Homo sapiens: one gene and its partners. The protein of the gene in region 2 purifies or fractionates together with the protein of the main gene of each other region. This does not show direct contact. Each region holds a gene or a part of one and is shown on either strand. Other genes may lie near its edges. The genes, in order: ULBP3, CCNL2, CCNY and IRF2BP1.

Evidence for each region.
Region 1: the proteins of CCNL2 (region 2) and ULBP3 purify together in Homo sapiens (affinity purification with mass spectrometry; 3 studies listed by BioGRID and IntAct, with this or other methods). This does not show direct contact.
Region 3: the proteins of CCNL2 (region 2) and CCNY purify together in Homo sapiens (affinity purification with mass spectrometry; 3 studies listed by BioGRID and IntAct, with this or other methods). This does not show direct contact.
Region 4: the proteins of CCNL2 (region 2) and IRF2BP1 purify together in Homo sapiens (affinity purification with mass spectrometry; 3 studies listed by BioGRID and IntAct, with this or other methods). This does not show direct contact.

Annotation. Positions count from the first base shown.
Region 1 is NC_000006.12:150,066,110-150,074,064, forward strand, and holds the start of ULBP3 (UL16-binding protein 3 precursor), read right to left. Parts: upstream 3,013-7,955; 5' UTR 2,958-3,012; coding exon 2,870-2,957; intron 54-2,869; coding exon 1-53.
Region 2 is NC_000001.11:1,389,322-1,396,341, forward strand, and holds part of CCNL2 (cyclin-L2), read right to left. Parts: intron 6,217-7,020; coding exon of another isoform or gene 6,194-6,216; coding exon 6,073-6,193; intron 4,140-6,072; coding exon 4,075-4,139; intron 3,484-4,074; exon of another isoform or gene 3,483-3,483; coding exon of another isoform or gene 3,461-3,482; exon of another isoform or gene 2,269-3,460; coding exon of another isoform or gene 1,976-2,268; exon of another isoform or gene 1,545-1,975; coding exon 1,445-1,544; intron 1,243-1,444; coding exon 1,138-1,242; intron 1,051-1,137; coding exon 909-1,050; intron 1-908. UniProt on the Homo sapiens protein: Involved in pre-mRNA splicing. May induce cell death, possibly by acting on the transcription and RNA processing of apoptosis-related factors.
Region 3 is NC_000010.11:35,339,498-35,346,517, reverse strand, and holds part of CCNY (cyclin-Y), read right to left. Parts: intron 1-7,020. UniProt on the Homo sapiens protein: Positive regulatory subunit of the cyclin-dependent kinases CDK14/PFTK1 and CDK16.
Region 4 is NC_000019.10:45,883,136-45,890,456, forward strand, and holds IRF2BP1 (interferon regulatory factor 2-binding protein 1), read right to left. Parts: upstream 3,007-7,321; 5' UTR 2,640-3,006; coding exon 885-2,639; 3' UTR 473-884; downstream 1-472. UniProt on the Homo sapiens protein: Acts as a transcriptional corepressor in a IRF2-dependent manner; this repression is not mediated by histone deacetylase activities. May act as an E3 ligase towards JDP2, enhancing its polyubiquitination. Represses ATF2-dependent transcriptional activation.

The DNA of each region.
Region 1 (7,955 bases), on a different chromosome or scaffold from region 2:
CCCATGTCTGGGCAAATGAATGATGGTGAAGTTATACCAGAGAGAGTGAGCGTCTAAGGAAAAAAAAAAAAAACACCAGAGAGTGTTGGGGTGGGGGAAAGACCCCAAACACTGTGACAGCAAGAGGGTTTCCTGAAGGGCTGGGCTGGCAGAGCATGGATTTCTCTTCCTGGACGGTGGTCTCTGCCTGTGGAGGAACCATGGGTCGCTAACATGTCTATCTCCCCACTCTGCCCAGGCCTATACTCACATCCGTCAGCACAGGACCCTGCCAGGGAGGTGGCAGGCCCACTACAGGAAGAAGGACTTAGATGGCAGGATCTGCAGGAGCAGCCCAGGTGGACTGCAAGAGGCGGGAGAGTGTGGGAGGGCACCCTGAGGATGTTGGAGCGTGGTGCAGTGGGTACGATGTAGTTAACATTGGATAAGGATGAGTTCATTTATTATGGGTAACAAGACATGGTAAGTTCCCTGGAATGTGGTCAGCTGCTAGTAGGTTGCCCTTGGAACCTTGGAAAAAGGAATGACCCACACCGCATGAAACAGAAAACCCAGGTCTTACGTGGCAGGTTGTACAGGAAGGAACAAAATACTAAGAGAAGTGCCCATGCCAGAGTGACTGCAGTATGAAAATCCAGAACAATGTTCACCCTCTGTGCTCAAGGGAAGCCTGGAAGACTCCTGTTTACCTAGCATATAAAGAAGGCCCCAGGAGAAGGCAGCAGACTGTCAAGAAGCTCAGGGATGCCTGTTGCTGAAGCCCAGGGTCAGGGGTAGGAGATGCTCTTCCTGAAATGGGCTCCCAGTAGTAATGGGGATGGAAAATCCTGAAATAAGAGATCTCAAGTGGAGGCCGTCAACTGTCAGCAGGAAGGAGGGTGCAATGATGGAAATAATTAGAGAAGTCACAATGCTAGCTGGGGTCCTCAGTCTTACAAAGCTATGCCCATGGCTCATAGAACAAAAGGGTCCAAGATCCAAAAGAGATGGAGACTCCACCCGGATACTACTAGATTTAAATAATTACCACAAAGACAAAATGCAAGGATGGATGACCAGGAGGCTGAAAGTTGTCACCCCGGGAAATAACTGAGCTCCCTCGCCCAGCTTTGAGAACTGAGCCACATCTCAGACGCAGAGTCCATTACTAGAAGGAGAGCCCAGAGCCCCTGGTGGGCTCCTTCAACCCCACAGCAATTGCAATGACTCCTTCAGCCTCCCCCACAGAGCCAGATGGGTAGTCACTCTGGTAACTGTACACCATGAAACAGCAAATACTCAGACACTCCTAGTGGACACAGTGTGTGATCCGAGCTCTTCCCAGGGATGTGAAGCATTAACTTGCTCCCCTGTTACTCATGAGGTGCATTTGGGGCAAAGTAACAGATGGACTTCTGTGTCAGGTCCAGCTTAGAGGGATGTGCTGGGTTCATAGACCCATTCAATGGTAATTTCACATTTCCTGGATTTCTACCGGGAATGGATAGTGTTTGTAGTTAATGTAGTAACTATTATAGTTTGTGCTGGTCATATGACCTCCCCTGTCACTACTCAACTCTGCTCTTATAGCTGGGATGCAGCCATACACACTCTGTGATGAGGGGTGTGGCTGGACCTGCCACTACAGCTATTTGACCCTGGACTCCCTAAGATCCCAGAAGCATGTGTGGTTGGAAAAGGTGCTATGTGGATTTCATGGCTATTCCCAACCACAGAATCCAACAGGGTCCCCTAGTGCTCAGAAGCAAAGCTGTGCCACTCACAGCAGTGAAATCCCCTCATTTAAAAGTGGCTCCTGCTGTGGTCCTGGGCCCCTGTGGAGATGGGCCTCCAGCTATGGGAGGGCAGTGACCACACAGCCTCAGAGCTGCCCATCACAGGGTGTGCTCCTCACCCTTTAGGTCATTAGGAAGATAGGCCCCACAGTGAGAAGACACAGGTGGGTCTCCTGGGATGGGCAGGAGCAGGGCCACAGGGAACCAAGAAGCTGCACAAGCAGTTGGCTCTGATCCCCAGGACACCACATGGCTACACCCCCCCACCCTCAGGTCACACCTGAGGCTTCAGGGAGGGTCCCTGAATGGCCCCTGGGGACCGTTAATGCTACTCAGCAACAAAGGAGGGGAGCAGTAGGCCCCGAACCATGGGACTCCCCCTCACATTCATCACATCCACACCTCCCAGAAGCCACAGGCAGGGTAGGACACACTTGTGACTCTTCAACTTACACAACTTAGAGATGACACCCTAGGGGATGGGGCAGCAATTGCCAGGACACAGCATGTGCCCTCATCTGGAGTCTGCAACCTAGGACAGGGTCCATTTCAGGTTTCTCTTTTACTTGCAGGTTGCCATTGCCTGCTGTTGCTCTACAAAGGGACGGGACTTGACACAGAGACAGAGAACTCACGGCCAGCAAGGACCAAAGTGCCTTCAGCCTTTCCTTTCTAGAAAGGGTTTGCTGACTCCTGTCTGCTTAGTGACTATTCTATATGACGCTGGCGTCACCCATGTCTTGACCCCAGCTCGGGTTCCGGGGGCTCTGGTTTCTCCTTCCCGAGGACGAGTGGGGCTGCGGGGTTGCACCAGGGATCCCCTCCCCACCTCGCCCTCTGCAGCTTTTTGGCCCCTCCACCCTCCTGCGGTTCTTTTTTCGCCTTCTTTGACCCCCCTCCTGCTCTGCAGGGCAAGCAGCAGCCGCAGGAAGCGGACCTGGCGAAAAAGAGCAGCGAATCGGAACTGAGCGTGGGGGCAGTCCGGGGAGATCGCGCCGGTCCTTCTAGAAGGCTTCCCTCCTCTGAAACCCGCTGCAGTCCACAGCCCCCCAGGTTTGGCCCCCGCCCCGCTTAGGCTCCATCCCCGAACTCACCGGCCCGCCCCGTCCCGGACCAGTCGAATAGCAGGTACGGAAGAATCGCGAGGCGCGGAAGGATCGCGGGGCTGGCGGCCGCTGCCATTGTAGACCAGGAGCGCCCGGGACACAAGGCGCAGTCGATGTGGAGACCAGCGTATGAATCACTTCGGCCCTCGCATGCCAGCTAGTGATTGAGTGTGCTCGGCCCCGTCCGGTCCCGTCCCGCCCCGGGATCCAGGGGAGCCTACGCCTGCCCACGTTTGGAGGGATGCTCCGCCCTATCCCGCCCCGTCCCGCCCTTCCCCGCCCCACCCCAGGCTGGGACCCGGGGAGCCTATGCCTGCTGTGGCTCCGCTTCGTCCCGCCCCGGGCTCGTGGCCTGACAGCGGCCCCCTCTGGCCAACCCTTACCCTCCACCCCAGGCTCCGCGCGGGCCAGGACACGATTCCTTCTTGACCGCCTCATTTAATTTTTTAACACACCATTTATTATTACCCCAATGTAAGCACTGATGCACAGGAAAGCGAAGAAACTTGCACAGGGATATCCAGTGGCGGCTGTGTCCCCCCGTCACTGCCTCCGCCAGCGACACCTGCCCTCCTTCAGCCTGCGCCAAGGAGTCCCCGCCCCTCTCCGTCCAGGGCGCAGCTGCTTCCCAGTCCGGAGCAGACCTTCTTTGCCTCTCCACTAAAAGCATGAGGAATATATAGAATATATATAGAATAAAGTATATTCTATATCCCTTTATGACTTCTGGGAAAAAAAAGAAAGAAAAGAAAGCCCTAGTGGCCTACCGTGATCAGTGATCAAATGATCAATTGTGTTTCCATGGAGAGCAGAAGCCGAGGGAGGGTCTACGCATGCGTGGGGCTCACTTTGCTGTACACCCATCTGTGGCCAGCTACACGCAAATCCATGGCTGCACGCGCATCTCTGCCCTGTCCCTGGATGGTGACTGCAGCCATCCTCAAAGCGGCAACCCGAGTGTATCCTCGTCTCAGTCACCATGGAAACATCTAGATCTGTGGGCAGAAGCCAGAGGGAGGTGATGGGCCCAGTGGCCCTTGGCCGCAAGGGAGGGCTTTAGCCTGGGATGAGGAGTGGACAGAGATCTTGAGTGCCACTCAGGCCCCAGCCACTCAGCCCATTCCCTATTGAATGAGAAAAATCGGCACAGACCTCCCACTCCGTACAGTCTTCATGTTGGGATCACCTGCACCTGGTGATCATCAATCCCGAGGGTCCTGAGGCTGTGGGAAAGAGGAGGAGGCCTGGACAAAGCCCAGGGCCTGTTTCTGCTTCAGGACAGAGTCATGGGAGGGCAGCCACCTCTGTGACTGAGCAGGGACACAGGAGCCTAGAAGATTCTGGCCTGATGCACTAGAGCCCCTGTGCAGGAGGGGCCATGTGGAGGGTAGTTTGGAGGACAACAGACACACAAGGGTGGGCAGTTCTCAGATTTGGGAGGGGCAGAGCTTGGCGGGTCCCAGGATCTGTGTGTGAGAAGAGCCTCCCATGTACAGGGCTGGGGGCAGGAGCCCAGGTTAGTCCTGGGAGGAGGCCTCTGGGAAGGCCCTGGCAGCACCACCCCGAGGCCAGGTGACCTGGGCCAGTGACTGGGGGAACAGGAGGAAGGTAGAAGGAGGCTGGCAGGAGAGCCCCAAGCAGGACAGGAGGAGGGGCTTTTGTGCACACCTGGGCCCTCCTGACTCACCCCTGCTGCAGGCATCTGGCCAACAGACTCAGGCCTGCCCAGGATGGGGATAGAAGTGGCCCAAATGTTATTGTAATGGCCGGGATCTAGAGATCATGCATTCAGATATGGAAGTCAGCTGATATTGTGGCTGAATATTCCTGTGCAAGCTTCTTCAGCTTTCTAGGAATGGATGTCTGCATGTGGAAAATGACAAATGCTATGAACACAGATGAAATGAGCAGATTCTACAAGGAACCCTGTCCTTGCACATGCTAAGGACCCAGGGCAGGTCTCCTATTTCAGTTGTGAGGCCTCCAGCTCTCCCTGAAGTCAGCAACTGCCAGGCCCACCCTGAGGAGAGCTGGATCTCTGAGCCCAGGCCATGGCCTCTTCATGGCCCTGGGGGCGCTGTGATGGGGAGGAAATGAAAACAAGACCCACCATCAAGACTCAGGCATGTTTTTCAGACCCACAGAGGATGATTTTTCTCTCCATCACCTGGTGAGCCTGACGTGATGTAAGGGTGGTTGGAAGCTGAGTGAACCAGTGAATGAATGAGACAGTTGTGGGAGTGAATGGGACTCAGAAGAATAGCACAGGTTCAGAGGGGAGCTGGAGCGGAGGTTGTAACCCCCAGCGGCCTGAAGGTGGCAGCATCGAGGTTGGTAATTTTTTTTTTTTTTTGCCTTTTTTAGTTGTTGGGTTTTATTTGTTGTTTTCCGGTTTGTTTGTTTTTGAGACAGTCTCACTCTGTCGCCCAGACTGGAGTGCAATGGGACGATCTCAGCTCACTACAATCTCTGCCACCCGGGTTCAAGCGATTCTCTTCCCTCAGCCTCCCGAGTAGCTGGGATTAGAGGCACCTGCCACCACCCCCGGCTAATTTTTGCAATTTTAATAGAGACAGGGTCTCACCGTGTTGGCCAGGCTGATCTCGAACTCCCGGCCTCAGGTGATCTGCCTGCCTCGGCCTCCCAAAGTGTTGGGATTACAGGCGTGAGCCACTTCGCCTGGCCCCAACTTGGAAATTTGAATCTCCACCTGGGTGTCCACAAAGATTTTCCAAGGAAGAGTAACTTTGGTTTTCAACCAGTCTGGGGGGTGCTTCATCAGGATAGAATCTTCTAGAAAACATAGTGTGATGACGGACAGCAAACTGCTGTCTTCAGTTGGTTTGACTGAGCCTAGAGTGCACCAGGGCCAGGAAAATCTTGTCTTTTTCTTGCCTTTTTTTTTTTTTGAGACGTTGTCTCATACTATCGCCCGGGCTGGTGTGCAGTGGTGTGATCTAGGCTCGCTGCAACCTCCGCCTCCCGGGTTCAAGCGATTTTCCTGCCTCAGCCTCCTGAGTGGCTAGGATTACAGGCATCCCCACCATGCCCGGCTAGTTTTTTGTATTTTTAGTCGAGATGGGGTTTCACTATGTTGGCTAGGCTGGTCTCGAACTCCTGATCTCATGATCCGCCCGCCTTGGCCTCCCAAAGTGCTGGTATTACAGGCGTGAGCCACCGCGCATGGCTGAAATACTTGCCTTTTAAGCAAAGAAAGAACGAGTCTGAAAGTGGGAATGGAAATGGGAAAAGATAACCGGGCCAGGAGGAAAGAGGAGAAAAGAAGGGTTGGGGTCTGAGAGGTAGCAAGGATTCAAGCATTTCCTGCCCCATGGCCTGGAGTTGCAAGTGGGCGGGGCAGGGCTACTGGAGCTGTGACAGCCTTGAGGGCCAGGGTGACTCACGCAGCGGCTCTCTGCTTCCTCTGGGTGTGTCACACCCTGGGCTCCTGGTCCCCAGTGGCACAGGTGCTGGCGCGAAGTTGGGTGTTTGCCTCCAGCCTCTGCTCCTGCTGCCAGGCTGGTCCAGGGCAGGTTGGGGCGGGGCAGTGAGTTCTAGGGCTGGACCCTAAGCAGGGGTGTGGGCAAATATGGGGGTCTTGGACTGCAGGGGGTCAGGAGAGGGGAGGCTTCTGGAAGTTCCTGAAGGTTGCCCTGGGATTTAATGCGACATTGCTAGCTAGAGCCAGCTTGGCATGGGGAGAGCGATGCGAGACTGATGAAAAGCGTGCAGCCTGATTTAAAGCCAAACCCTGAGTCCTTTCTAAGAACAATAAAGCATATTGTAGTCGCTAAAAGAAACAAATACAAAAAAAATTAAAAAGTAGCCTTTCTTCGCAGATACAGCACGTTTTATTTTTAATCTTTACATTTAACATTGTCTTTTGAAAATAGTGTATATTATTTGATATTTTAAAATCCAACCTGGGAGTTTCAGTGATTTATGTGATAAGTTTAGTAGTTCACTTTTATTGTAATTACTACTGTTTAGGATTTAGCTCTGCCATCTTTTTTATTTATTATTTATTTATTTTTATTTATTTATTTTTTCTCTGTCGCCCAGGCTGTAGTGCAGTGGCACGGTCTCGGCTTGATGCAAGCTCCTCCTCCTGGGTTCATACCGTTCTCCTGCTTCAGCCTCCCGAGTAACTGGGACTATAGGCGCCCGCCACCACGCCCAGCTAGTTTTTTTTTTTTTTTTTTTTTTTTTTTTTGTATTTTTAGTAGAGACGAGGTTTCACCTTGTTAGCCAGGATGGTCTCAATCTCCTGACCTTGTGATCCACCCACCTCTGCCTCCCATAGTGCTGGGATTACAGGCATGAGCCACCGTGCCCAGCCTATCTATTTATTTTTTTTAAGATATGGGGTCTTCCTCTGTTGCCCAGGTTGGAGTGCAGCCGCGTGGTCATAGCTCACTGCAGCCTCTAACTCCTGGGCTCAGGCCATCTTACTGCCTCAGCCTCCGAGTAGCCAGGACTACAAGCATGCGCCACCCACTGGGCTAATTTTCTATATTTGTCTGTAGAGATGGGGTCTGCCTATATTGCCCAGGCTGGTCTTGAACTCCTGAGCTCAAGCGATCCTCCTGCCTTGGCCTCCCAAAGTGCAGGGATTACAGGCGTGAGCCACTGTGCCTGGTGCACATGTATTTATTGTGTTTTTTATTGCTGGCATTTCCCCTCCGTAACTGTGTTCTATTTAGTATACTGAGGGTTTTTTTTCTGTTGGTTTAAAAGTTATACATTCTAGTTTTCTTCTCAGGGTGGCTGCCCTTAACCTATGACTCATACCAATATGTGTCACATTTATTGGTATTATTGGTTTTGTTTTATTCCTAATTTTAGAAGTCTCAGCATGTTTTCCTATCCCTTTCGTGTGCCACCTCCAGCCCCATTTTCCTGATATCTTTCCTAGCTGTAATTCTCGGTTATTCTTAGCTACACTTCTTTGTTTCTGTGATCCTAACTTCACATTTCCCCTTGTTGTGAAATAACAGTAATCTGGAATAGATTCCTTAGTCACTTGTCCTCCTCGGTTCTCTTGTCGTATCTCCTGTGTTTCTCTCGCTATTGA
Region 2 (7,020 bases):
TCGCACCACTGCACTCCAGCCTGGACGACAGAGCGAGACTCCATCTCAAAAAAAAGAACTGCAGACAGGCCCTTTGCATCACACTGAACTCTAGGTCTGATGACGTGTATCATCTATGGCCCCACACTATAACACCTTCATCAGATGACAAGCTACCTGGGCAGCAGGATAAACAAAAGCATTTCAGACAACCTGTCATACTCCCTGCTAATCAACAGAAAGGCCAGGTGCCTATGCTCCTAGCACTCTGGGACGCTGAGGCAGGACAATCACTTGAGGCCAGGAAATTCAAGAGCAGCCCGGCCAACATAGCAAGACCCAGACTCAACTAAAAAGATAAAGAATTAGCTAAGCACAGCTGGGCACGGTGGCTCACGCCTGTAATCCCAGCACTTTGGGAGGCTGAGGTGGGCAGATCACGAGGTCAGGAGATCGAGACCATCCTGGCTAACCTGGTGAAACCCCGTCTCTACTAAAAATTCAAAAAATTAGCCAGGCGTGGTGGCGGCCACCTGCAGTCCCAGCTACTCAGGAGGCTGAGGCAGGAGAATGGTGTGAACTCAGGAGGCGGAGCTTGCAGTGAGAGGAAATTGCGCCACTGCACTCCAGCCTGGGCTGGAGCAAGACTCTGTCTCAAACAAAAAGAATTAGCCAAGCATGGTGGCATGTGCCTGTAGTCCTAGCTATGCAGAAAGCTGAGGTGGGAGGATCACTTGAATCCAGGAGTTGGAAGCTGCAGTGAGCTGCGATCACACCACCATACTCCAGCCTGGGTGACAGAGACCCTGTCTCAAAAAAAAAAAAAAAAAAAATGTCTGGAAGGAGCACATACCCCAGAATGGAGGCGGGGGAGAGTCACCAGTCTTTGCCTTTGTGGGGAGTGGATTCCTGCACTCTAACAGACTCACCCAGCTTGGGGGCAGGAGAGAACCCCGAGGTACCATCCAGCACCTGTGTGCCCCCAGGCAACAGGCCCCGGGCTTGGGCCTTTGCCTCTTCGATAGCGTGCTTTCTTTTTTCCACTTCACCCTCCAGGTGTGTGAGATCAACCTGCAAAAGCCAGAAGGTGTCCGTTCAGAACCAGGTGTTTCTGGCCAAACACAAACGCATACGTTACATGAAAAAATGCCGAAGAACCTTTTTCCGAGCATAAAGCTGCAAGATCTTTAAGCAGATTTCCTGAATTTCTTCTTCAGTTGCTCCAAACAAAAGAAACCAATGGGGACGATTGGGCAAAGGGATCTGTAAAAACAAACACTATCATCATTACACTTTCCTCAACTTCACGGCCAGCAAGACTCAGGACAATTAAAAAACAGCCTGTTGGTCACGAAAATGCTTTGGCCCAGATTAGAGTAATTTGAAGAATAACACAGTAAAGTTTACTGGAGGCTGGAGAAAAAAAAATCAGACTAGAATCTCTCCATAGTAGCAACACACTGACCTCCAGCGTCCGGGCAGCAAGATAAATGCAGGCACAGGCGATGCTCTCTGGCTGGAACCGCACGAAGACGTCGGTGCGAAGGCTGTCGTTCATGTAATTCCTGGAAGCCAAACACAGGAAGAACTGCAATGCCCCACCCGGGAACCCAGGTCTTCCGCCTGCATTATCTAGAGAAAATCTAGATAAACGTACTACTCCTCTAAGGAGTCTATTGCTAGGACTCAGAGCTAGACAGTCCTGTGAATCTCAAGAGTTAATGGAGAAATATTCTAGCTGCTTTTTCTAAATACAGTAAATACAGGACAGAAAGGCACAGAAATTATTAGAAAAAAAAAAAGCTGGCTGAATGTCAGACAATACGTGTTGCTATGAAAGAGAACCGACTTTAACTTTACTTTTCCCCTCAACCTTGGCCTGCTCTCATGCAAAGCACGATGCCTCAGAAAGAAAATGTCTACTGGAGTCACTAAAACGCTTTTGATTAAAGAAATCTAAATGCTCAAAATCCATAGTGCAGAGAAACATGCAAACTCAAATGAACTGGCTGAGCACAAAGCCGGTGTGGCTGCTGGGAGACAAGCCATCCTCTTGGGTTCCTCTTCCTCTTCCTCCAGGGCGCTGGCGGCAGGCCCCTTCTCTGCTGACCGAGCTGCAGCTTCCTTGAAGGAGTCCACTTGGAAGAGGGAAAAGCCCCTTGGGTGCAAGTTGGACGCGTGGGAGCATCGTGCGGAGGGAGACTCCGCACCCAAGGGCAGGCCTCTTCTCGGGCTCATCAGAGCCGCTGCCAACTGTCCCATTTCAACAAGGGGTCTTAAAATGAACATTCATAGAATCAGAAGCAACACAATACTGAGAAGCAACATGATACTGAGAAGCAACATAATACTGAACATTTCATCACAGTACATTCTTTAACTTTCATATTTAGAAGCTATAAACATACAAAAATTTACATTTTTTAAAAGTTAAAGCATTTAAAACCTGGCTACATTTTGAGCATTTCCTTTAGATCTCTAAGATTTAATAGACTAAAACCAGACCTTACACTAGCTTTATGAATACTGCAAAAACAGAAAGGGTGATTCCATGAGGACAGTTGAACTGGTTTTATATTTACTGCTCCTCACATACCCCAATAACGGGGAGCCTTGGAGTGGGGCTGCACCCGCAGACGAGGTGGGTTGTGAGGGAATCTGACCCATGACCTTCCAGCAATATCTCTGTCCTAAATAAACCTTGGAGAAGGTAACATACAAACCCACTCAAGAGATTTCTAAATGGGAAGTCCTACAGGTGCCTCTTGGAGACACCCGGCTCTGGAAGCAGCTCCAGGCATCACGGGGGAATCTGTGTGGCGGCCGTGTGGCCCCAGCCCCTGATGCAAGCGTGCCAGTGCACAGCTCTAACACAGATACATTCAACAATCAGTAACCTTTCGGTGTCTAATCAACAACTGTCAGTATTCAAGTAGTGATATTAATCCACGAACTTAAAATTCTTAAAAACAAATGAAATCTTGAGAACATATAAACTTATTGCTGTATTTGAAGTGATACAATATTTTTCAAAGTATCCATGAAATAATTTAAAGATGCACACCTTTTACCAGAGCGTGTCATGCAAAGCTGCTCAAAAGAGCAACTTCAGGGCTTCTAGAAATCATGACATAACCCCACACTGACACAGCCAATTTGTCTCTTCAATTCTCACAGCTTTCCATAGCATTTTTTTTTAAGAGAAAGGTACTGCATCTTTATCATACAGGTACAGCAGTTTTAAAGGGACAAAATTCAAGTCAAGACAGTTACCAACTCTAATCAATACGATTACCAAAGCACGACAGAGGATTAACAAGAAGCACAATCGTCAGAGAACCACAGCAGGAGTCGGCCATGGCTATGCTATGTGCGTACCACCAGTCTAGAGCCAGCCTTCGGTGGAGAGCCTGCACTGGATTGGCTGAAGATGCCGCTGTCCCTGCACCAAAGCGCTTGGACAGCAGAGGAGAAGTCTTAGTCACTTACCCTCAGAGGCTACCCTTTGATTGAAAGAGTACAGAAAAGAAAAGTCAAAATAGGTTCTCTATTAAACATGTCATAGCACCAGACAATTCAGTCAGCAAAAATATGACCCTTACAGACTTAACTCCATGGGAAAAAATTCACCAGAATCCCCAGAATCCCCCAAATACTACATTGCACTTTAGGGTTCCTTTCTAGCACATGCATTGCTAAAATCGGCCCCAGAACCTTCTCTGCCCCTCTCCCATGGGATGCAATGTCAGTGGAGAAACAGACCAAGTCTGCACTAGCCTGTCCCTCCACCCTCCCCAGGAAAAGGTCCCCCTGCGCCAAGTCAACAGCTCCCAGAGGAAGCCCACTGACTGCTCTCTTCAGGGTGGGGGACACAGGAAGTCCAGGCTTGCAGGGAGGGGACGGGCCACCTACCGTGACTGCCAGTGCCCATTTTGGGAGTCTGATTGGAATTTATACAGCAGGAGCACTGGGCACTCGGACAACTCCAGCCCACAACCAAGTCACTGGGCTGCCTACCCACTGCCCAAGTGCCTCAAGTCAACACATTCCTGCACTGCCCTTGCTGGTCTCATAAAACAAGGAAGCTCAACTCACCATGAGGTCTGGACCAGGTGTTGGTTACGCTCACACTCTAACACCTGAAGGTACATAACGATTATCTGGAAGATACGGGTCAGGCAGTTATTACCAAGAACCTTAAGAGCCCAGAATTCAGATCTTGTGGGTGTCCATGCAGCAAACAAGAGCCTCAAGCTAGATCCCAGGAGTGGCTCCTGGCCACACGTCTGGCGGACGGCTCAGCTGGAGGGAGCTTTGCGATTGCACCTGCTGTCTGCCTTGGCAGCCAGGCAGGACGCATGCCCGTGAGCCCAGCCACACAACCCACGGCACAGGCCTCGTTCTTCATGGGGCTGGTTTCATTCTAGTCTTCAATGCCTTTCCACCAGTGAGGTTGGCCTGTCCTACACGTCTCTGTATCCCAGTTAACAACTCACCAAAACACAATATGAACATACTTTCAGCAAACAGAGAAGAACACTTCAGGCCAGGCACACTGGCTCATGCCTATAATCCCAGCACTTTGGGAGGCTGAGGCGGGCAGATCACCTGAGGTCAGGAGTTCGAGAACAGCCTGACCAATATGGAGAAACCCAGTCTCTACTAAAAATACAAAATTAGTCAGGCATGGTGGTGCACGCCTGTAATCCCAGGTACTCAGGAGGCTGAGGCAGGAGAATCGCTTGAAACCAGGAGGCGGAGGCTGCATGAGCTGAGGTTGCGCCATTGCACTCCAGCCTGGACAACAGAGCGAGATTCCGTCTCCAAAAAAAAAAAAAAAGCACTTCAATCTGTGGTGGGCAATTTGTGGATAATTTGAACAGATGGCAGAAAGCCGAACAAGCAGATGAGGAAACCCACCAATAAAAAGGAGATGGAACCAAAGATGGAAACAATTTTTTGGGAAAACAAGTGCTTTGTTTCCATGTGACACAGAAGGCACCCACAACGCTGGGAGTGAGGGACCGTGTCACGGCCATGGTCCTCAGTCAGTACATGCCGCAAAACTCGCCAGTCATTTCAGACTAAAGGGGCCAGAATTCCCCTAATTTCTCCATAAGAGAAAGTAAAGCTATCACTAAAGCAAATGTAGAAAATTAACTGTTGAGGCTGGGTGCAGTGGCTCACACTTGTAATCCCAGAACTTTGGGAGGCCGAGGCAGGTGCATCACCTGAGATCAGGAGTTTGAGACCAGCCCGGCCAACATGACGAAACCCCATCTCTACTAAAGATACAAAAATTACCCAGGTGTGGTGGCGCATGCCTGTAATCCCAGCTACTTGGGAGGCTGAGGCACAAGAATCACTTGAACCTGGGAGGCAGAGGTTGCAGTGAGCCAAGATTGCACCACTGCACTCCAGCCTGCATGACAGAGTAAGACTCCGTCTCAAGAAAAAAAAAAAAAAAAAAAAAAAAGGCCAGGCACAGTGGCTTATGCCTGTAATCCCAGCACTTTGGGAGGCCAAGGTGGGAGGATCACGAGGGCAAGAGATGAAGACCATTCTGGCCAACATGGTGAAACCCCGTCTCTACTAAAAATACAAAAATCAGCTCGGCGTGGTGGCACGTGCCTGTAGTGCCAGCTACTCAGGAGGCTGAGGCAGGAGAATGGCTTGAAGCCGGGAGGTGGAGGTTGTGCCTCCACTGCCACTGCCACCATGCCACTGCACTCCAGCCTGGCGATAGAGCGAAACTCCATCTCAAAAAAAAAGAAAACAAAAAAAAATTAACTGTAGAGAAAGGAAAACATAAACTAAAATTCAACATTTATAAACTCACCACTATTTTTGAAAGCCCAAACTTAAATAATACCATTTCCAAAACACTTAAAAATGTGTTACTAAAATAAACAGCTGACACTAGAAGACGAATACGTCAGGAACTATTCTTGAGATTATAAATAGAAACTGGAAAGCCAAGTCAGGGATGCACTCAGTCCTCTTCAGAGCCTTCAACTGCACTGAGGTGGAGAGAGGCGGCCAGGCAGGAGCAGCGGCCTAGGCGGGCTCGCAGGGCAGGAGCCGCACACCCACCTTATGAGGATGCTTCACATGGACGCAGAAACCCAACTCTTTGAGAACTCGTCTTTCCGCCTTTATAATTTGGTTCTTTAAATTAACATAATCTTGATCCAGTAGTAGAGGCACGGGCTTCCTGCCAGAGAGAGAGCACAGGGTCTGCACCACAGTCAAGCAGAGCAAGGCTTCTGAGATCCCGTCGTTACCTCCAACTATGAGCACCTAACACAAACCCCACAACACAACATCGCTATGAAGTCCACATCCTCTGATGAACAAAACTGCACACCGCTCCCCACAGCCCAGTGCCAACCTCCTCATCCCTTCCCAACGATCCCTCCCTGCTTTTCCTTATAGATCAACAGCTTCTGGTGCACAAGCATAGACCGAACATAGCAAGTTTTAGGATCTCGTGGCACAAATGCTAAAGCACTTTATGTGACTCACGATAGGAAGGTACATATTCACAGTTCAATAACCACAGAACCAATGAAAGCACAATTATTTAAATACAGATGGGCCAGGTGCAGTGGCTCTGCCTGTAATCCCAGCACTTTGGGAGGCGAGGCAGGCAGACTGCCTGAGCTCAGGAGTTCAAGACCAGTCTGACCAACATGGTGAAACCCTGTCTCTACTAAAAAAATGCAAAAATTAGCCGGGCGTGGTGGCGGGTGCTTGTAATCCCAGCTACTCAGGAGGCTGAGGCAGGAGATTCACTTGAACCCAGGAGGCGGAGGTTTCAGTGAGCCGAGATCGCATCACTGCACTCCAGCCTGGGTGACACGGTGAGACACAGTGAGAGTCCGTCTCAGAAAAAAAAAAAAAAAAAAAGGGCTGGGTGCAGTGGCTCACACCTGTAACCCCAGCACTTTGGGAGGCCGATGAGGCCATGTTTTTTCTTTTTTTGAGATGGAGTCTCACTCTGTTGCCCAGGCTGGAGTGCAGTGGCGCGCTCTTGGCTCA
Region 3 (7,020 bases), on a different chromosome or scaffold from region 2:
TTGGCCAACCCCTGAAATGACCTCTTCTGCCAGAGTCATCAAGAGACTTTACAGGCAAAATCTTGCTGATGTGTGGGATCCACCAATGTGACTTGCCAGGCTGACATGCTCAATTTTAGCTTTAGCACACCCTTCTTTCCAAGCTGGCAAATAGCAAAGGAAGCCCCTAGAAAAAGTAAAGGGAGACAGAGAGCCTAGCAACAGCTACCAGCAACACACAGAGCCAACAGCAAGAAAGAAAAGGTGGGTGGGGTATCTCCTGAGCTCCCTGCAATTGTGGGTCTAGCCAGTTAGATTCCTTTCCTAAAAGAAATGAGAACAACAGCCCCTAATAACCTGCTGAGGAACGCTTGATCTTATTATTTTAGGTAACCAACTACCCTTTATTAAAAAGCAGTATTTTAATATAATAAAGCATATTTATGCATGCCTCAAAATCCTATTCTTTGAATAAATAAATAAGCAAGCAAGCAAGCCCTGGCTCCAGCTTACACCTAAGGGTGCATGCTGACATTCCTAGGAATGTGGTTCCGGGGACACAGTTAGCAGACAGCCTGGGTGGGTTCCATTACCCCAGGAGTCAGGGAAAGCTTCTTCAAATATTCATCCCACTGCTCCTGTGTGGCATCACACTGACTTCAGAAAGATGCAACTCAGAAGAGTAATGAATCTGAGAAATAGTATTTCTATTCCAAATTCTACAGCCAGCAAGCATCCCACTCAAAGGTCAGACAGCTCTATATAACCTTACCCTACCCAGCTCTAAAATTACAGTTATGCTCTGGGACTGCCTTGAAGCCTGCTTTGATGTCTTTGTTAGGATAAGCTCTTTAGGCTTCCAGCTTCTCCAACTATGGACAGTCCAAACATAATTAGGTGGAGATACTGGAGCACACTTCACATATAATACAAGAAAATCAATATGAGTACCACATTCATAATGACATAAGTTCATCTAGTACTTTGTGGCTTTTTAAGCATTTTAGCCTCATTTGGATCCTCATAGTACTACCTCAATGTGTAAGGCGAGTCAGTTTTTTTTTTTTTTTTTGAGATGGAGTCTCACTGTCACCCAGGCTAGAGTGCAGTGGCGCTACCTCGGTTCACTGCAAGCTCCGCCTCCTGGGTTCACGCCATTCTCCTGCCTCAGCCTCCTGAGTAGCTGGGACCACAGGCACCCGCCACCACACCCAGCTAATTTTTTAAAATGCAAATCAAAACCATAATGAGATACCATCTCACACCAGTTAGAATGGCAATCATTAAAAAGTCAGGAAACAACAGGTGCTGGAGAGGATGTGGAGAAATAGGAACATTTTTACACTGTTGGTAGGACGTAAACTAGTTCAACCATTGTGGAAGTCAGTGTGGTGATTCCTCAGGGATCTAGAACTAGAAATACCATTTCGCCCAGCCATCCCATTACTGGGTATATACCCAAAGGATTATAAATCATGCTGCTATAAAGACACATGCACATGCATGTTTATTGCGGCACTATTCACAATAGCAAAGACTTGGAACCAACCCAAATGTCCAACAATGATAGACTGCATTAAGAAGATGTGGCACGTATACACCAGGGAATACTATGCAGCCATAAAAAATGATGAGTTCATGTCCTTTGTAGGGACATGGATGAAGCTGGAAACCATCATTCTCAGCAAACTATCGCACGGACAAAAAACCAAACACGGCATGTTCTCACTCATAGGTGGGAATTGAACAATGAGAACACATGGACACAGGAAGGGGAACATCACACACCGGGGCCTGTTGTCGGGTGGGGGGAGTGGGGAGGGATAGCATTAGGAGATATACCTAATGTTAAATGACGAGTTAATGGGTGCAGCACACCAACATGGCACATGTATACATATGTAATAAACCTGCACATTGTGCACATGTACCCTAAAACTTAAAGTATAATTTAAAAAGTAAAAAAGAAATAAAGTATACCAACTGAAAAAAAAATTTTTTTTGTATTTCTAGTAAAGACCAGTTTTCACCATGTTAGCCAGGATGGTCTTGATCTCCTGACCTCATGATCCGCCTGCCTCAGCCTCCCAAAGTGCTGGGATTACAGGCATGAGCCACGGCGCCCAGCCCAAGGCAAGGCAGTATTTTTAAGCACTTTTTTTAAGCAGAAGAGGAAGGTGAGGCTCAGCAGGACGGAGGCCCCTCAGTAAAAGTAGAACCTCATCTGGAATGCGGGTCTTCCCATTACAAGGCTTCCTCTCTTTGCCCTCCACCATACTTCACAGAGCTGGGAGCACACCCTATAAATCCCCTGAGAAGAGCCTTCTCTGACTTTACCTTCCTTGAGCCTCTCCTTTCTTCAGGAAAGACAGGCTAGAATAATGCTGAGAATCAGAGAAGAAATGGTCTCCTGACCAAGGCTCCAAGCAACAAACTACTCAACATCTGAAGAGGATGAGAAATGCTGCAGGGAAAGTGAACTCTCACCCTTCTTCCAGCTATAAACTGGAAATAATACTGAAAGGATGAGGGACTTACATCAACTGTCATTGCTGGGGACCTACCCTCACAGCCCAATGTTGAATCATGAAAGGATTCACACTTTGAAGTGTGACAAGTATGATACTGTCAATAGCCCTCTTGTGAAAAATAGCACTGTTTCCTCAAAGTCAATCCAATGTGACACACTTGGAGCTAAATCTCTGACCCTATGTGATTAAAACAGAATTTCAAAGCCACACACATATCCTGCTTCTTGGTATTTTTTGGTTCTGCCCCTTGCTGGATAGAAATAAATTTAATCCTTGCATTAGTTTCATCTAGCCAGAAATGTAAAAGCAAGACCATCAGGCCGGAGACTGTGGCTCACACCTATAATCCCAGCATTTTGGGAGGCAGAGGCAGGCAGATCACCTGAGGTCAGGAGTTTGAGATCGGCCTGGCCAACATGGCAAAACCCCGTCTCTACTAAAAGTACAAAAATTAGCCGGACGTGGTGGCACGTGCCTGTAGTCCCAGTTACTTAGGAGGCTGAGGCAGGGGAATTGCTTCAACCCAGGAGGCGGAGGTTGCAGTGAGCCGAGATGGCATCACTGCACTCCAGCCTGGGCAATAAGAGCGAAACTCCGTTTCAAAAAAAAAAAAAAAAAAAAAAAAGACCATCAGCTTTGTAGAGGAGGGTGAGAAGGTGAGAAAATCTACCACTCCATGGAATTATTTAATTTTCATTACTCTCAAAAAGCAGGCAGGAGACTGGGCGCAGTGGCTCATGCCTGTAATCCCAGCATTTTGGGAGGCCAAGGTGGGTGGATCATATGGACCAGCCTGGCCAACATGGTGAAACCCCATCTCTACTAAAAATACAAAAATTAGCTGGGCAGTAGTGGCGTGCACCTGTAATCTCAGCTACTCGGGAGGCTGAGGCAGGAGAATTACTTGAGCCTGGGAGGCAGAGGTTGCAGTGAGCCAAGATCGCGCCACTGCACTCCAGCCAGGGCGAGAGAGTAAAACCCTGTCTTAAAAAAAAAAAAAAAAAAAAGGCAGGCAGGAAAGTAAAAGTCCTTACACAAAATATTGCTAGACAAAAGCATATAGGCAATAACTATGAATCTCTTGAAACAAAGTGGGCTGGGCCAGGCCATCAGGAGGTTCAGATTCTAGACACGGATCATTCTCTAATTAGCTGTCACAGGGCAGTTGAGGCATGGAGGCAAGCTGACAGCAGACCGAACCCCAGCTGCCACTAACAAACTGAGGAACCTTCCGCAAATGCCTTAACCTTTAAGGCTCAATTTCTTCACCTAGAAAATGGGGAGAATGATAAGAAGACTAAGAAAAACAATACAGGTCAAGTAATTAGCACGGTTGTTGGCCGAAAATTAACAAAGTAAATTCTACTACCATCATCCATGATCTGCATGACCTGGGCAAGAAACTACACCTCTCTGAGATTCAGTCTTCCCACCTGTAAAATGGGTGTGTGGAAGCAAACGACTCCCTGATTCTAAGTGAAAGAGAAACATGAAAAGTAAGCAGAGACAGGTCATGGACCCATGGTCAGTGCTATGGAGAATGGCTCTCTTGACAAATCTTTAAACTGCACTTCTCCACACTGCTAACTAATATGAAGTCACATGCTTGGTCGGGGTGTCTCCACATACCTTGCAGACAGCAGGGCTGATAAGTCTTAGCCTGGAAAGAAAGTCCACGGTATGTTCTGCCCACCAGGGCTGGTAATGTTAATGTGGGACCAAGATTCAAGAAAGAGTGCTGCAGAGGTGATGTTAAATAGATTGTAGAGACTCAAGGAAGCCAAGAGCAATATGCAAGCTCATCCTACAGGCACTTAGATTTCAAATTGCCCTGTGTCCCCACTCTTCTAACGGCAAGCAGTTTTGCCAGTTATCCCTCCGCTGCTTGGGATGAGTCCCTGAGGCTTCTAGCTTCTCTGGCTGTAGACAGCCAAAACACCATGTACCTATATCCCATTAGACACTTCATGTTTCAGACAAGAAAATCAACATAAGTGACTATGTTCATAATTGCAGATGTTCATCTAGTATTTTTTGGTTAATTGAGCATTTGAGTCTCAATTTGATCCTTAAGGATGTAAGGCCACAGCTAAAGTCATTCGTTGAAAGAAACAAGGAAAAAAGACTAAACATACCACATTATTAAACAGATTCCCATTAGCCAGGTTTCCTTTCAGCCTGGGTATGCTTTTTTTCTTTTTAAGCTTTAAAACCTTTAAGTTTCATTTTCAGTACTTCACCCTATCTGCTACCTCTCAGGTTAAACTACAAAGCCAAAAAGTTTCACATCCACGCTACTTTCATTATTACAAGTCCTCTTCATTCTCCTTGCCTCCTGTTTCCCCTCACCCAATAAACATACGCGATGATGTTTTCATTCACATCCTTCAATGGTTGGTTTCACTCAACAAATTCATTCAACAAATATTTATAGTATCTTCAAGGAATCAGGTGCTACTCTAGGCACTTGGTTACATCAGTGAACCAAACAATAAATGTTCTATTGGAACTTACATGCTAGTAGCTAGTAGCTAGTATTTATGTTTATACTTATATAGTATATCATAAAGTGTTAAGGAATAAAGAAACAGGAGTGCAGGGAATATGCATTGGGATTGCCAGTGGGCGGCAGAAAGGATGTTTAAAGGTGATTGGGAAGGCCTCCCTGAAAAGGTCAGGCTTGAACCAAGGCTGCAGGTGATAAAGGGACTCAGCCAAGAGAGCACATGGAGGACACTTCAGGCAGAGGGAGAGAACGGGGTGGAAGTTTGTGTCTGGTATGTTCCAGGAAGGGCAAGGAAGGAGGCCAATGTGGCTGGAATGAGCAAGCGACTGAGTGAGCTGATGGCAGGCAGATCCCAAGGGGCCCCAGCGACCACTGTAAGGCTTTTACTTGTGCAATAACGAGTCACTGCCGTTTTTGAGTGAAGGAATAAGTTCAAGTTTTTTAAAGGATCTTAGCCATGGCTGTTGTGTCGAGAACAGACTGGAGCAGGCAAGGGTGGAAGCAGGGAGACCAGGTGGGCTGGGGGAGATGGCAGCTGCTTAAATCTCCAGAAGAGCAGCAGCAGAGGTCTTGAGAGTGGTCAAAGTCTGATATATTCTGAGGGCAGAGAGCCACATTTTCCTACCAGATATGATACAGGACGAGGGAGAAAGTGAGTTGTCAAGGATGACAGGTAAACTATAAAAATGAAAAGAGTGGGCCAGGAGCAGTGGCTCACCCCTGTAATCCCAGCACTTTGGGAGACTGAGGCGGGCAGATCACTTGAGGTCAGGAGTTCGAGACCAGTATAACAAATATGGAGAAACCCCATCTCTACTAAAAATACAAAATTAGCCAGGCGTGGTGGCGCATGCCTGTAATCCCAGCTACTTGGGACGCTGAGGCAGGAGAACTGCTTGAACCCGGGAGGTGGAGGTTGCAGTGAACCAAGATTATGCCACTGCACTCCAGCCTGGGTGACAGAGCAAAACTCCATCTCAAAAAAAAAAAAAAAAAAGAATGAAGTTGCCATCAACCATTTTAAGGTAAAACCCTACAAGGACACTATGGTACAGCTGTTACAAGTATCCTGATTTATTTGGTCTCCTCACATTTTAAATTCTCTTTAGTCCCTCCCTCCCTTTCTCCTCCCACAGAAATAATCTAATCCTGGAAGTCTGGACTGAATAACTGCTGCAGACAGAAGAAGTTTATCCTTGAGAAAGTATGGATATGACTGCAATGACAAGACACCCTATCCCAGAAGGCAACCCCAGACTAGCTAACGTTTGATGGCTAAGTCAAGCAACAATGGAAAGTTTCCATTTGCCATGTATTGGCTGTGTGACTTTGGACAAGTCATTTCTCCTCTCAGTGACTCATTTCTTTGTCTTAAAGTAAGGGTAATATTACCCATAGGGTTACTGTGAGTTCTAAGTAAATGAATGGAATCCAAGTACTTAGAGCGGCAGCTGGTGACAGCTGCTACAGAGTAAGTAATACATAGGCTGCAATTATTACTATCATTTTTTTATTTTCCTAAAGAATTGTTCTGAAGATTACTATTGTTGTTATGTGTTGCTGTTTTTTCTCAATCTCTGAATGATTTTATAAGAAATAATACCTGGAAAGCATGAGTCCAATATCAATTTCAAAAACATGAATAACCTAACACTAAGATAAACTGAGCAAAAAGACACATTAAGTTGCCATTAAGCACCATAGACACCTAAGTTCCCAGACACTAAAATTACTGAAATTCTACAGGACAAGTATTACCCCTTCATGTGCCTGGTGACAAAGGGAAGAAAGCATGGATACATATGTCATATCTCTGTGATTTAAAGACACTAACCTATCATAGAAGACCCATGAACTTCAAACCTTTCTAAACCAGCTGGGTGGGATGTTTTTCAGGACATAAAAAATATGGTATTTGAGTACTTCAGCTTTTGATATATACTAGAGTCAATGATTCTTAAAATGTAGTTTTAAAATGTTTACTAATAACCTAACAATCAATAT
Region 4 (7,321 bases), on a different chromosome or scaffold from region 2:
GTTGTTTCTAGGCATCCTGTTAGTTTACCCCGTGGAGGTAAATTTCCTCTTTCCTCGGGCAGTCCCTCTAGCAGTCTACCCTAAATTCTCCCTTCTACCCGGCAAGAACCCACTGCCCATGTCTTCTAGGAAGCCTCCCGCTGCCTCTTTCCCCTCCCCACGTAGGCGCTGAGTCCTCCACCTTCCAGGTAGAGATAGGGGATGGGTCAGCTACAGAAGGGTAATCTACTCCCAAGCCTGTCTGTGGCTCCCCTGCAGGAGCCATCCCCTCTCTGAGCCTCAGTACTTTTATCTGGAAAACGGGCCGATGGCTGAAACGTGACCAGTGGGTCGCACTTGTTGAAGGTCGGCCGGCGGGACCGCCTGGGTGCAGGGCGCCACCTGGAGGCTACCGCGCAACGTCCTCGCCCTCGCAGGACCAGTTCAGTCCCAAAGGGGGCGCAGCATCTCACACAACTAAGGGACCAAGAAGGAAAAAAAAAACCCATCTTTCGGTTTATTGAAGGAGCAGAAGGGAGCGGGGGGTGGGGGGGTGGGAATTAAATGCTTTTGCCTCGTTTATAAAGAGCGAGTTTTCAGGAGGTCCCTTCTCAAGGAGGAGGGGGGCACCTCTCCCCCAACTACAAGCAGCAGCAAAGCCAAGCCAAGGAGGACAGAGGGAAACTGGAGGGGCCAAGGGACCCCAAACACCCCCTCGGACAGGAGCCACAAGCTTTCTCCCCCCACCCACAATGCATCTACCCCAGGGGACCCATCTGGGTGGAAGAAGGGAGTATGTACACAGATAGAGGTGGCACTGGGCTGGGTCGGGGAGGGAATAATTTATCCGCGGCAGCGGTGGGTGGCAAAGGGGCAGAGGGCAGTAGCCTGGAGGCAGTGGTAGCCTAGGGGTCCCGTTCTTTCTTAACTTTGATGTCTCCAGCAAGGATGGTGGCGATCTCGCCCTGCATGAAGGCCCAGGGCACGGAGGAGCCGACCAGCGGGCACTTGTCTCCGCTCGGGCAGTACACCTCCCCGGCCGGGCCCTGCGCCTTGATGAACTCCCGGGAGCAGGGAAAGCAGAACTTGTGTCCGGGCACCGAGGGGCACTGGACGAAGTGGGTGTCTTCTAGCCGCTCCCTGCACAGGGTACAGCACAGGGGGGCCCCAGGGGTCGCCCCAGTGCCGCTGCCACCCCCGCTGACAGCTTCGGCCCCCGCTGTGGGACTGACTTCTGCTTCGCCGTTGCGGGCCACAAGGCGATGCTGGGTTGGCGGCTGGGCCGTGGAGGAGGCTGCAGGGCTGGCGCCCCCTGCACGCACAGGCCCCCCGCCTCCGCCAGGGTCCTTGGGTGAGTGGCCCAGGGCTTCGGCCACATTCTTCAGGGCGGCAATGGGCGAGGGCACACCAGGGGTCTCAGCGGAGTACGGGCCGCCGGGTGCCACCCAGTGCCGTTGCTGCTGCTCCTCGGTGGTCATCTTCCCAGCCGCCTCGCCCTCCGGCTCGGGGGATGCCTTGCGACGGCGCGGCGTGGGCGCCAGGTTCCGGGATGGGGCTCGCGGGGGTGGGCCACAGAGAGCCGCAGGGGCCGGCTCTGGGTACTGCTGGGGCAGGGCCTCCGCGGGAGCTGGCTCGCGGAAGCTGCGGACGCCGTCGGTAAGCAGCTCGCCCAGCTGCCGCCATTCTCCTGATCCATGCCGGCGTTCATATTCGAGGTACTTGAAGCCCGAAGAAGCCAGTGCCTTGCCCGGCTCCCGCAGAGCATCGTGGAACATCTGGCGAGCCACTGCCAGGACGCCGGCGTACACATTGCCGGAACCACAGGGGTATTCGGTGAAGAGCTTCAGCTCGAACTCGTATCCTGGAGGACGGGCAGTAGCATCGAAGGCGAACACTCGCCCCACCAGCCCGTGATCCTTCTTGAAGCGCACATTGAACGGGGCGCAGGCGGACAGCGCCAGTAGCTGTTCCCGCACTGCTTTGGGGCGCCCGTGCCATTCCTCTGCCCGGCCTCGCATGGCCTCGTTCAGTTCTGCCAGACAGTCCGCATTCCTCTGCTGCTTCTCTTTCTCGAAATCGGAGCCGAAGAGGGGACGGGCAGGACTCAAGCCGGGTGCCAGCGTCAGGCCTCGGCTTCCCAGGCCAGACACTGCAGCTGCCAGCAGCCCAGGGGGCATCAAGCCAGGCATGGAGCCAAGCAAGGCCCTTCGCGCCCCCTCAGCCACGGCCTCCTCACGGCCCAGCCCATTGGCCAGGCGGGACCCCAGAGTGTACTCCAGGGCGGGCGAGGGCAGGGGGAGGCGGCCTGATGATGTGGCCCTGTCATAGCGGTCCTGGCCCGACACGCCGCCGCCGGTCCCTGACGGCTGGGGCTGGGCCTGCGGGGGCGGCAGCTGGGGCCCCTGTGCGGCTGCCGCCGCCAGGTCCTTGGTGGCCGGGTGCTTAAGGGCCGGGGGCCCGGGCGAGCGGCCCTCGGGGAGCACGTGGCTGCGCTTGAGCTGGCGGGCGGCATCGATGAGCAGTTCGATGCGGTCCGCGCCCTCGAAGTTCACGCAGCCGCGACACACGGCCTCGCTGAAGTCCCACACCATGGCCCACGGCATCTTGGGCAGGTCGCACAGGTAGCACCACTGGCGGCGGGACGCCTGCACAGACGCCATGGCCCCAGTCCGCGCGCCGCCCAGCTCCCGCGTTCCACCGGCCGCCGACGTGCGATCCGCGCCGCCAACGTTCGATCCGCGTCCCGGGGACAGCGCGAGCCACGGTCCGGCCTCCGGCTCGGCCTCCCCGCCGGATCCAGGCCCGGCCCCCCTTCCCCGCCCCCTGGGCCCTAAGCCTTTCTGCTCACTCCCGCCTCCCTCGCGAAGGCAGGCTGAGGCACGTCGGCGCCCCCGCCCGGTCCGGGCTCCGAGCCGAGGCGCACAGCTCGGGCCCCACGATGGGCCGCGAGCGCCGCCGCCTCGGGCTCCCGCCGCTCTCGCCGCCGCCGCTGCAACGGCCGCCGCCGCCTCCACCTCCTTCTTCTGCCCCAGAGGCCGCTTCGCAGGGAAAGTTACATAACACGCCTGCAAAGCCTTCTGGGAAACGTAGTCCCGCCGGGGCCGGCTCTTAAAGGGAACGGCGGGCAGACGCGGGCTGGGGGGGTTGTCGCCTCTGCCGGCGCAAACCTTACAACCTTCTCCGTGGGGCCGGAGTTCAGCGCGCCGCAAGATGCTGGGACACAAAGGTGGTAGGCGAGGATGCAATACAAATGATCAGAGCTACTCCGGATTCAGAAATTGTGGGGGTGGGTGGACAGGCTTCCGGGCTTCCAACTTCTGCTCGGATTTGCTGTGCAGCTTTAGGCAAAATGTCTTGCCCTCTCTGAACCTCAGTTTCCCCGCCCAGCAAAGGTGGGCCAATGACGGATTAGGAAAGTAGCAGCTTCTGGGGCGGGGCGGAGAAGCCCTGATTGGCTTCAGAGCAGGGACGGGAAGCTGGCAACTAGGTGGGGGTGGGGGTGGCCACCTGGCACTTCGTCCTCCCCCCGGAATCCTAGATATATGCTTCTGGGGCCCGCCACAGCCAGAGAAGGGAGAGGACTAAGGGCTTCCGAGCCAGAGCCTTGTCTCAGTTGTTTCTCTGCTAAAAGAGTGGGGCGACTGGCCGCCCTCTAACCCTGTCCCAGCTCTGCCCGCGCGCTCTGGTCTCTAAAGGGTTACACCATCGGGGGCTCGGCGTCCCCCACCCGCTTCACTACAATTCCCAAAATGCACTGCGGGTCGGACATAGTGACGCACTTCCGCCCTCTGGGAGGTTTGGGGAGGCCTTCCAGATTCACGCTACTTTCCCGGCTACCCCCCGCCCCCCCACTTTTCTGGGGGCTCTTTACGTGCATTCGGAGCGTGGCGTTTGGGGGACCCTTATCTTCTGTTGCTCCCCAGTTTGAGGGAAGAGTAAGGGGTTAAGAAGTGACGGGCAAGAGGAGGGAGTTGCTGGGGAAGGGCAAACACCAGACCAACCTTTCCCCAACCTTGAGCGCTCACTACCTGGAAGGCCCAATCAGGCTGTGAGGACCCTTCTTCTTTCCCAGGCATTGGGAACTGGACGAGGCTGTCTTTGGGGAAGGGCGGAGGCGGGTCTCCAGGTTCCAACCCACAACAGCCCCTTTCTCTAGGCCTGGGTCCGTGTTAGGTGCTCAAAAATATTTGAATGACGTACCAGTTGGCCCTGGTTTTGTCTAGTGAGGGGCTGCTTGTCCCTTCTCCTCCCGTCCCACTGGAACCGCAGCAGCTCTGATTCTGTTACCCAGACCTCACAATTTTAAAATGGTTTCACAATTTTGTCTACTACCTGTATTTGAACACTTTTCTCCCTTAAAAAAAAGATTTATCAGGCTGAAGTGGGAGGATTGCTTGAGCCTGGAGATAACAGGCTACAGTGAACCATGATTGCGTCACTGCACTCCAGCCTGGGCAACAGAGCAAGATCCTGTCTCAAAAAAATAAATAAAAATAAAAAGATTTATCTATTTTTGCCTCATCCTAGGTAATACGTTCACAATCATGGGTTTCATGTACTGTGGTTACCTTAAAAAAAATTAGTGAAAACTATCGACTCATTCAAGAGGACATTAATATGTCACTTAAAGTTGCCTTTGGGCTATTATTTACGAAACACTAATGGGAGTTAAGGCTTCTGGCCAGATTCAGCCTTCAGGTGGACTGGATTGGCCTCTGACCAGCTGTGGCCTTGGGCCAGTTTCTAAACTTCTTGGAAAAAATGGAGACCCCCTCCAGTCTCCTTTTATTTGGGTACCTTCAGATTGAATGCAAACATGCATATAAATGCTTAGCTTGGTGCCTGGCACAGAAAATAAGTGCCACAAATGGAAGTTGTTTTTAAGCTGGACAGTTATTCAAATATTCAACCCCTCTTCCATGCTGGGCAATGCTGGGGACATAGCAGTGACTGAGACAGGCTTTAAGCCTTGCCCCTGAGAAGCCCCAGCCTGGTGATGGAGGCAGATAGTAAATTTACTCAAATGATGAACTAAAATTTGTGATGACTGCGGTGGGGAATGTGTGTCAGGAAAAGCTTTCCTGGCCATAGTGGCTCATGCCTGTAATTCCAGCACTTTGGGAGGCCGAGGAGGGCGGATCACTTGAGGTCAGAAGTTTGAGACCAGACTGGCCAACATGGTGAAACCTTGTCTCTACTAAAAATTAAAAAATTAGGGGGCCGGGCGCGGTGGCTCACGCCTGTAATCCCAGCACTTTGGGAGGCCGAGGCAGGCAGATCACAAAGTCAGGAGATTGAGACCATCCTGGCTAACACGGTGAAACCCCGTCTCTACTAAAAATACAAAAAATTAGCCAGGTGTGGTGGTGGGCGCCTGTAGTCCCAGCTACTCGGGAGGCTGAGGCAGGAGAATGGTGTGAACCCGGAAGGTGGAGCTTGCAGTGAGCCAAGATCGAGCCACTGCACTCCAGCCTGGGCGACAGAGTGAGACTCCATCTCAAAAAATAAAAATAAAAAAAAAATAAATAAATAAAATTAGGCCGGACAGTGGCAGTGGCTCACATCTATAATCCCAGTACTTTGGGAGCCCTATCACTTGAGGTCAGGGGTTCGAGATCAGCCTGGCCAACACGGTGAAACCCCCATCTCTACTAAAAAGTACAAAAATTAGCCAGGTGTGGTGGCGCACACCTGTAATCCCAGCTACTCAGGAGGCTGAGGCAGGAGAATTCCATGAACCCAGGAGATGAGTTCACACCACTGCACCTCCAGCCTGGGGGACAGATGCAAGACTCCGTCTCAAAAAAAACCAAAAAACAACAACAAAAAAACAAAAAACTAACTAAATAAGTAAAAATACAAAAATTGGCCAGGTGTAGTGGCACACGCCTGTAGTCCCGGCTACTTGGGAGGCTGAGGCAGAAGAATCACTTGAACCCGAGAGGCAGAAGTTGCAGTGAGCCAAGACCGCGCCACTGCACTCCAGCCTGGGCGACAGAGGGAGACTCTACCTCAAAAAAAGAAAAAAAAAAAAGAAAAGTATAATCTAATTATAGGAAGAAAGACTCTGACATCTTTATGTCCATTCTACAGATGAGGACACTGGAAGCCAATGGTTACACAGTTGGCCAGGGCAGCACCAGTACTTGAGCCACGTCTTGAGTCCAGAGTGGTGGTGATTATCTACTTTGTTACCTGGCCCTGCAGCAGAGTAAAAGAACCAGTTCCTGCCTTCATGACATTATGGGCAAATGTGCCTTAAATAGATAAAGGCCTGTGTTCATTTAGAGTCACTATGAAAAAGAACCCAGCTGTGTGTGGTGGCTCATGCTTGTAATCCTAGCACTTTGGGAGGCCGAGGTGGGAGGACTGCCTGAGCCCATGAGTTCCAGATCAGCCTGGACATCATAGAAAACCCCATCTCTAGAAAAATAAAACAATTAGCTGAGCATGGTGGCACATGCCTGTGGTCCCAGCTACTTGGGAGGCTGAGGCAGAAGGATTGCTTCAGCCTGGGAGATCGAGGCTACAGTGAGTTGTGATCATGCCACTGCACTCCAGCTGGGGCAACAGAACGAGATCCTATCTCAAAAAAACGGAAAGAAAAGAAAAGAAAGGAAAAGAAAAAGAAAAAGAACCACAGGACACTGAAAGAGACTCTAAGAGGCAAACCCACGTTAGCCTTGGGGAAGGAATCTAGGACTTTCTCCTGGAGTTGACATTTAGACTGGTATCTAAAGGAAGAGTAGGAATAAGATTTCATGTAAACACAAGACTTGATGGCTTTAAGAATTAAAAAAAAAAAAAAGCTGGAAAACCACCAGCCTCCCAATTGCCTGCCTGTGGAGGGGGCGGGGCAGGTGTAGGTGCTGGTCCCCCAGGCCTGTCTCAGACAGAGCCTCAAGTAATTGTATTAAAAATAAGTTTATTGATATCTTGTCACCACTGGGAGAAAGGAGGGGGTTGAGCTCTGGAAGTCAGAGACAGCAATGGTAGGCAGAGAACCCAACCTGTACCTCTCCCATCAGAACTCGGCGCCTCCTCTCCCTGGGGTATACACGGCTATATCCTCTTTGTCATCCGTATTTTGATTTGTCTTACAACTCCCACCCGCTCCAAAGTCTGGGTTGGGGAGGTGGGGAGTCCCCCACGGGTCAATTCTCTTCAAGTCAAGAACAGGAACTGTTAGGGAAGGGGAGATGTGCAGACCCGAGAGGTTCCCTCCCCACCCCACATAGGGCAATAATAAATAACATGAAATTGATGGCTTAGAAGTCAGGGTTAAGGGAGGCAGCCAGGCAGACAGCACTGTACCAGAGAAAGGGGTTGGGGGGGCCCATTA